Linked DNA regions of Homo sapiens. The protein of the gene in region 2 interacts with the protein of the main gene of each other region in a biochemical or structural test. Each region holds a gene or a part of one and is shown on either strand. Other genes may lie near its edges.

Region 1 (3,806 bases), on a different chromosome or scaffold from region 2:
CGCAGACCCCCACAAGCGTAAGGTCCCATGTCCCCCCAATCCAGTCCTTGCCAAAGCCATGGTGGCCTCTTGAGACATCCTCAGCCCCAGCTGCGCCTGGAGCAGACGGCCAGGAGACAGAGCGGTGGGCAGGCTACTCCAGGTAGATGTCCTCCGTGGGGCAGGCGTACGCCAGGTGCTCTTGGTAGTACTCCAGGAAGGCGCGGCTGGGGAAAGACGGTCCTCCACCAGCCACTCAGGGCCGGTCCTCAACCCCCAAACTGCCTTCCACAGAGCCTCTGAGCTCTCCCTCCTTCCTCCCTCTGCAGCCATCCATAACCCCCCACCCAGGCATGGCCATGTCACCCCCAAGTGTGACCCTCAGCTCTCCTGGCCCAGCAATTCTACCCCTGCCAGAGTGCCTGGGCCATGTGTCTGTGCCTGTTCCCACCCCATGCCCAGCACCCCAAACTGTCACCCACCACTGCCCTCTCTACACAGCACATCTGGTTCTCCTTCCCCAGACCTCCCCTGCCAGGCTCCTGCCCCCACCTGCTCACCTCCGCTCCCCACCTCCGTAACCCTGCACCCATTCTGCACCCACACCCTGGGGCCCCACTCACCCCACACTCTGCGCCACCGGCCTCATGGACTCCTGGGAGACAAAGACGTGGCAGGCGAAGCGGCTCAGCAGGGGGTGTTTGGTGATGAAGCCGAAATAGCTGCGGGCAAGTCAGTGTGGAGGGCACGTCAGAGCCCTGGCCCAGCCTTGGCCACCCCACAAATGATGTAGAGAGAAGAGGCAGGAACAAAGGGCTTGGGGAGAGGGTAAGGGACAGGAGTGTGGGGGTCGCACAATTTCAAGATCTGAAGTTGTCTTTTTTTGGTTTCAGCCCAAGCACAGGGCTGGGCACCTACCAAGAGTTCACGCTCTGAGTTAATTCCATGATGACCAGGGGCGTCCACTCTCCCTTCTCTGAGCCGGTGCTGCTACCCTCTGTGGCCCTATTCAGGGCCTGCCCCAGGACCACAGAGCAAGGCCTCTGCCTGGCTACTGGAGACCATATCTCCTGCCAACTCAGGCCTCCTCCTGCGGGCCTAGCAGACTGACAGCCCCTTGCCCAGCTCCGAGGTGGGGCTGGACGTTACCCCTGGTCTGTAAAACCCTCTTCCGGTCTACCCCTCGCTCCCACTGGAAAGCAGCTCCTTGCGGGGCCTCGCTCATGGAGTCACTGCCCAGCTCCTCCACCCAGACATTAGCAAAAATCAAAAATCGTCGTCCAGAGGGAGAGGCAGGCAGAGTTCTGCAGCAGGACGCTGCCCCACCCCCACCCCTGAAACTGGCCGACCCGTCCATTCCCCCATGGCTTCGGGGCTTTGCGATTCCACCAAATGGGAAGCCACATGATGGTCTGCTTGCCAGGACAGTGTGTGCACGCTGTCCACAGACAGAGCACAGGGCCCGCCTCAAATGCCGCGTTCAAGTCATGATGGTAATAAGCGCCGACCCACAGATCTGGCTTCCTGCATTACTCAGGCACCATCCTCTGCCCTTTCCATTAACTCACAGAAGCCTCACAACAGCCCTCTGAGGTAGGGCCCTGATGGAGAGCTAGGCACAGAGGTTCAGGAGCTTGCCCAGGACACACAGGCAGGATGGGCAGCCCTGGGAGAAAAGGCTACAGTCTGTGATCCCAACACCAGACATCCTAATGCCAGATCCCAACACAGCACACCCCACGCTCTCCTGACCTACCACCACCGCCATGAAGAAACGAGTTCATCGTTCACCTCACACGGTTTCGTCCGTGCCTCCTCGTGGCAAGGGACCGGGGACGGGGGGTCTGGGGTGACAAATATTAGGAAGGTCTGGGCCAGGGCAGCAGCTCCTCCACCTCCTCCCACACCCCTGCCACATCTTGACTCCAAACCCCAAACTCGACTGACCACCTTCCTCTCACGAAATTCTAGCTGGGGCCCTGTCCAGCCTGAGACCTGAGCTTCACCCAGTTTCCTTCTGATGAGAAATTTGGGTCATTCTTCCTCTCCTGGCAGCGTCCGCTGTCCCAGTGACCCCAGAGCTGTCCCCACTGTCTGGTCTGCGCCCCGTCCGCTGTCCCAGTGACCCCAGAGCTGGCCCCACCGTCTGGTCTGCGCCCCGTCCGCTGTCCCGGTGACCCCAGAGCTGGCCCCACTGTCTGGTCTGCGCCCGTGCCCACTGTCCCACCTCTCCACCCCAGAGCTGTCCCTGCTGTCTGGTCTGCGCCCCTGCCCGCTGTCCCACCTCTCCACCCCAGAGCTGTCCCTGCTGTCTGGTCTGCGCCCCGTTCGCTGTCCCGGTGACCCCAGAGCTGGCCCCACTGTCTGGTCTGCGCCCCTGCCCACTGTCCCACCTCTCCACCCCAGAGCTGGCCCCGCTGTCTGGTCTGCGCCCCTGCCCGCTGTCCCACCTCTCCACCCCAGAGCTGTCCCTGCTGTCTGGTCTGCGCCCCGTTCGCTGTCCTGGTGACCCCAGAGCTGGCCCCACTGTCTGGTCTGCGCCCCTGCCCACTGTCCCACCTTTCCACCCCAGAGCTGGCCCCGCTGTCTGGTCTGCGCCCCTGCCCGCTGTCCCACCTCTCCACCCCAGAGCTGGCCCCGCAGTCTGGTCTGCATCGCTGCCCGCTGTCCCACCTCTCCACCCCACTGAGCAGCGTTTCCGCATGGATCCCATCAGACCATCTCTGCACTCGGCGGGGACAACACAAAAGGGCTCCGCACCTTCCAGCAGGCAGCACCCTCACTCTCGACCACAGGGAGAGTCCACAAGGCCCCCAAGATGCACTGACGTCTGTCCCACGCCTCAGTCCTGGCAGCACCGTGCCCTGCTGTGTCTTGCCTGTCTGTGAGCCTGCTTCCTCCAACTCCCCGCAAGTCCTTTCCAGCCTCTGGCTGGCTCTGCCTCTCTGGTTCCTCCCAGATCTCCTTCCTCTAGGGTGCTGGGACACAGAGGGCAGGGGCCTGTGCCTGGAGGGAAGCTGGCAGCCCCCCTTGGCCTGCTGCTCCTATGCCAGCACCTCCTCCTCCCCTCCTCCCCTCACCCTGCCTGGCCATTCCCCTCTCGTCTCAGTGATCTACCTGCTCTGACCTGGTATCTTCCCTCCAGGTCTCCCTCCTAAACTCCAGACCCATGGGACCAACGGCCACTTCAGTCTCACCGTTTGTGATTGATCCCGCATCCCCTCTCGGTGTGTGGGCTGCAGTACAACCATCCCCCAGGGAGACGTCACCCTGGTCTCTTCCAGGTCACCCTCTACAGCCGGTCAACCTAGGTCCTGCCTGTACTGCCTCTTCAGTGCCTCTTGCATCTGCACACTTGGTCTCAGGACATAGCACCTGTATAACCTCAGCAGCCCCCAGGTCCCCTGTGTCACCTCCTTCCATTAGGAGCCTTCTATGGCCTCATTACCAGCAAGATTAAGTACAGCTCCTTGGCATAATCAAAAGGGTCCAGGTCTTCCCCGGCATTTCTAGCTGCTCCCCTTACACGCGGGCCCCAGAGCCTATATAGCCCCCGACCAGTGCATCCCACACCCTTGGCTCAGCTAGACCCCACCAGGAAGATCCACTTCCCCACCGCTGTCACCTGCTGTGTTTCCAGGCTGGCCATCCTGAGCCCCAGGCCCACTCAGGCGTCCTCTGCACCCACACAGGCTTCTCACATCCTTCGCCCGTGTGCCTCTCTCCACCCAGACTGGATGCAAGCCTGTCTGACCCACGCCTCCTGAGTCCAGCTCAGAGCAGGCGCCACTGCAGGCTCAGCTCACAGAGCTAAGTGGGTGCAGGTG
Region 2 (3,806 bases):
ACCTTGTGATCCACCCGCCTCGGCCTCCCAAAGTGTTGGGATTACAGGCGTGAGCCACTGCATCCGGCCTGCCTTTCAGTTTAAAATCATTTGGGACACTCAAAGGTGAGGGGCTCACTACAGCCCTTCTGAGATGGGACTGTCACTTGGAAGAGGTTTCTGAGATGGCCACATGGACCTAGGGCATGGTTTGGAAGCCGGGAGAAGGCCACACTGACTTGAGTGGGTCACCTGCATGCACATCTGTTGCTCCCTGCTTGCTTACTCACTTGGGTGACTTGAGATCCCTGTGGATAATCTTGTGCAGGTGCAGGTAGTTCATGCCACCAGCGATGCCCATGGACCAGTCAACCAGTAAGGAGGGGGTGACAGGGCGGCCAGCCCGCAGTACCTCATACAGCTGGCCCTGGGCGCAGAACTCCATGAGGATGCAGTAGCAGGGAGCCTGGGTGCACACACCCCTGGGAGCCAAACAATGGTATGAAGGCCTCAGCTGGCTCAGCATTCACCTGATTCATACCTGGAACCCCCATTCCCACCCATTCCACCTATGGATCTCCTCTGGGGAAGGATGGGGTAGGTCCCACTGCCCAGGAGGGTACCAGGCCTTAGCATAGTATCCCCAACACCCAGCCCCTGCCCTGGACCTCACTTGAAAGTGATGATGTTGGGGTGCTTCAGCTTTCGCAAGTGCTTGATGTCGGTTTCTTTGAGGTCTCGCACCTTCTTCACAGCCACCTCCTCCCCGTGGAAGCGCCCCAGGAAGACAGCACCCTGGGCCCCTGAGCCCACCCACTGCAGGTCCAGGATTTCCTCAAAGGGGACCTCCCAAAGGTCTGTGGGCAGGAGGCACAGTGCCACAAGCCTCAGAAAGAGCCACACTCAAGGCCAGGGACAGGATAGCATTGGGTTGGCTGAATTGACTTAAGGAGGGTGAGGCAGAAAGCCAAAAATAGGCCAAGAAGAAGGTTCGAGGGGACAGGGAAGGAATGAATGGGTGGCCTTAAAAGAAGCTGGGAAGTTAGAGGCTGATGGATGGCTAAGGGACTAGGGCTGGGCCATGGGGAGGGAAGGGACCATTGCGTGACTTTAGCGGAGCTGACCAACAGATCTCGGGCTCAGGGAAACAGAGAGGAGGCTCCCACAAGGACGTGGCCTACCTTCCTGCTGCTGCTTGTGCTCAGTGGAGTAGGCTTTGCCAATCATGGTCCAGACAGGGCGCAGGCAGCCAAAGAGGCCCTCAAGGAAGCCACTGCCACTCTGGCACTGCAGTCGCACCTCGTCAGCTCGAACTCTGGATGCCCGACTCTCAGGTGACCCAGCTGCTCCCCCTGGGCCCCCTGCATCCTGCTCATGTAGCTGCAGGACACTGTTGGCAAAAGGCTCAGGGGGCGGCTCTCCACCTGGGGAGGGGCTGGGCCCTCCCCCACCCTGCCCACCAAGGGGTACCACATCTCGAAGTACACACTGGGTAGGCGTCAGGTCCTTCTCGGGAGTGCAGTCAGAAGTGTCTGGGTCCAGCTTGCGCATGGATGCCTCACTTAGGGTAGACACAAAGCCCCCAAAGGAAGGAGAGGGTGTTCGGGTCTCATGGAGGCAAGCCATCGCCTCTGGCCCCTGGTATGATGGTGAACACTGGGCCCTGTGGGAATGAAGGAAGGAGGGGCTGGGCTGTTAAAGCCCCAGGACTGCCTGCTCAGGACACTTATCCCAGAGGCACAGACTGGGGTGCTGGGTTCACAGTAGCCCCGCTGGAGGTAACACTTGTGGCTCCGTTTCCCATGGCCCTCCAAATTGCACCTTGAGCCATCTTAGGAAATCTGATACACTTGGGCTTCCTCTCAGGCATGTTAGTAAGGCAAGTAATAGGTAGACAGGTATCGTACCTGAGTATCATTCTCAGGTAACAGCCCCACGTGGGTACACACTGGTAAAATATGTCTCAAATTCAAGAGTAATGGTAACAGATGAGTTCCCTTCTCCCTGTAAGATGACTAATTCATTGCTGCAGCACATTTTTTTCACCCGAGACTCACAGGCACACACAGGTATCAGAAGGGTCTCACATTTACACCTTTACCTCGGGGTCAACCTCAGGCACACAATAGTAACACCTAGACCTCCTTCACATTGAAGCACACACAGGATGCTGGTAAACCTTTCAGACACCCTTGGACAGCATTCTTGAGCTGCCTACACACAGGCGATGCACCCGGGCCTCCCACCCAGGTACTTACACACGGTACTACTGAGGCCCTCTCAGGAACACTCAACTCAGGTGAGAGCCTCATTCTAAAACACACCCCTGGGCCTCTCCAAGGTAAGTGAAGGTTGTAACCACAGAGTTCTGTCCCCCCAGCACAGGTGGGGAAAAAGGCAGAAGCAGCCAATGGGGATGCAGACACTGTCACAGAAGGCCACTGCTTCATCCCCCTTGGCCCTCCCTTCAGTCCAGCGGCTCTCCCAGGGGTCAAACAAGGTCTTGTCTTCTCTTTCCTCTTCTCCATTGCCCCATCCTCTGCTCCCCAAACTTTCCAGGCAATGGAGATGTGTCCCAGTTCATAGCTGGGTGCTATTTAAAAAGCAACCATTAGGCCGGGTGCAGTGGCTCACACCTGTAATCTCAGCACTTTCAGAGGCCGAGGCGGGCGGATCACCTGAGGTCAGGAATTCGAGACCAGTCTGGTCAACATGGAGAAACCCCGTCTCTACTAAAAATACAAAATTAGCTAGGCGTGGTGGCACATGCCTGTAATCCCAGCTACTTGGGAGGCTGAGGCAGAAGAATTGCTTAAACCCGGGAGGCTGAGGTTTTGGTGAGCCAAGATCATGCCACTGCACTCCAGCCTGGGCAACAAGAGCGAAACTCTGTCTAAAAAAATATATAAATAAATAAAAAGCAACCATTAAAAAACCTGAATCTGGCACGGTGTGTTGGCTCATGCCTGTAATCTCAACACTTTGGGAGGCTGAGGCAGGTGGATCACTTGAGCTCAAGAGTTTGAGACCTTGGCTGGGCGCAGTGGCTCACGCCTGTAATCCTAGCACTTTGGGAGGCTGAGGTGGGTGGATCGCTTGAGGTCAGGAGTTTGAGACCAGCCTGGCCAACATGGCGAAACCCTGTCTCTACTTAAAAAGAAAAAATTAGCTGGGCGTGGTGGTGGATGCCTGTAATCCCAGCTACTCGGGAGGCTGAGGCAGGAGAATCACTTGAACCCCAGAGGTGAGGTTGCAGTAAGCCAAGATCACACCACTGCACTCCAGCCTTGGGCGACAGAGTGAAACTCTGTCTCAAAAAAAAAAAAAAAAAAAAAAGTTTGAGACCAGCCTGGGCAACATGGCAAAACCCTGTCTCTACCAAAAATAGAAACAAACAAACAAACAAAAAACAACAAAGCTGGGCATGGTGATCCTGTGACTGTGGTCCCAGCTCCTCTGGAGGCTGAGGTGAGATGATTGCTTGAGCCCAGGTGGCGGAGGTTGCAGTAAGCCACTGAATCCCAGCCTGGGCGAAGTAGCCAAACCCCGTCTCAAAAAACAAACAAACAAACAAAAACCCTGAATCCTGACTTGCTTCTGCCACATAATGGCTATGTGACCTCAGGCGAGCTGTAGTTGAGCCTCAGCTATACAAAGGAATAAACTGGCTGTCACTAAGGCACAGCAAACCCTTAATCCTACACCAGACTTGTCCAGAACTTGGCCCCAGGCGCCATGCTGGTCTCCCAACTCACTCCACACTTGTCAGTTACCAGATCCTGAGATTTGAAGATTCCCAAGAACAAGCATCCCTCTAATTGTTCCTC

The links.
Region 1: the proteins of MAP3K12 (region 2) and MAPK8IP2 form a complex in vitro, tested with the Homo sapiens proteins (one study listed by BioGRID).

Annotation. Positions count from the first base shown.
Region 1 is NC_000022.11:50,607,107-50,610,912, reverse strand, and holds part of MAPK8IP2 (C-Jun-amino-terminal kinase-interacting protein 2), read right to left. Parts: intron 702-3,806; coding exon 603-701; intron 207-602; coding exon 134-206; 3' UTR 1-133. UniProt on the Homo sapiens protein: The JNK-interacting protein (JIP) group of scaffold proteins selectively mediates JNK signaling by aggregating specific components of the MAPK cascade to form a functional JNK signaling module.
Region 2 is NC_000012.12:53,485,787-53,489,592, forward strand, and holds part of MAP3K12 (mitogen-activated protein kinase kinase kinase 12), read right to left. Parts: intron 1,643-3,806; 5' UTR 1,606-1,642; coding exon 1,161-1,605; intron 837-1,160; coding exon 653-836; intron 462-652; coding exon 270-461; intron 1-269.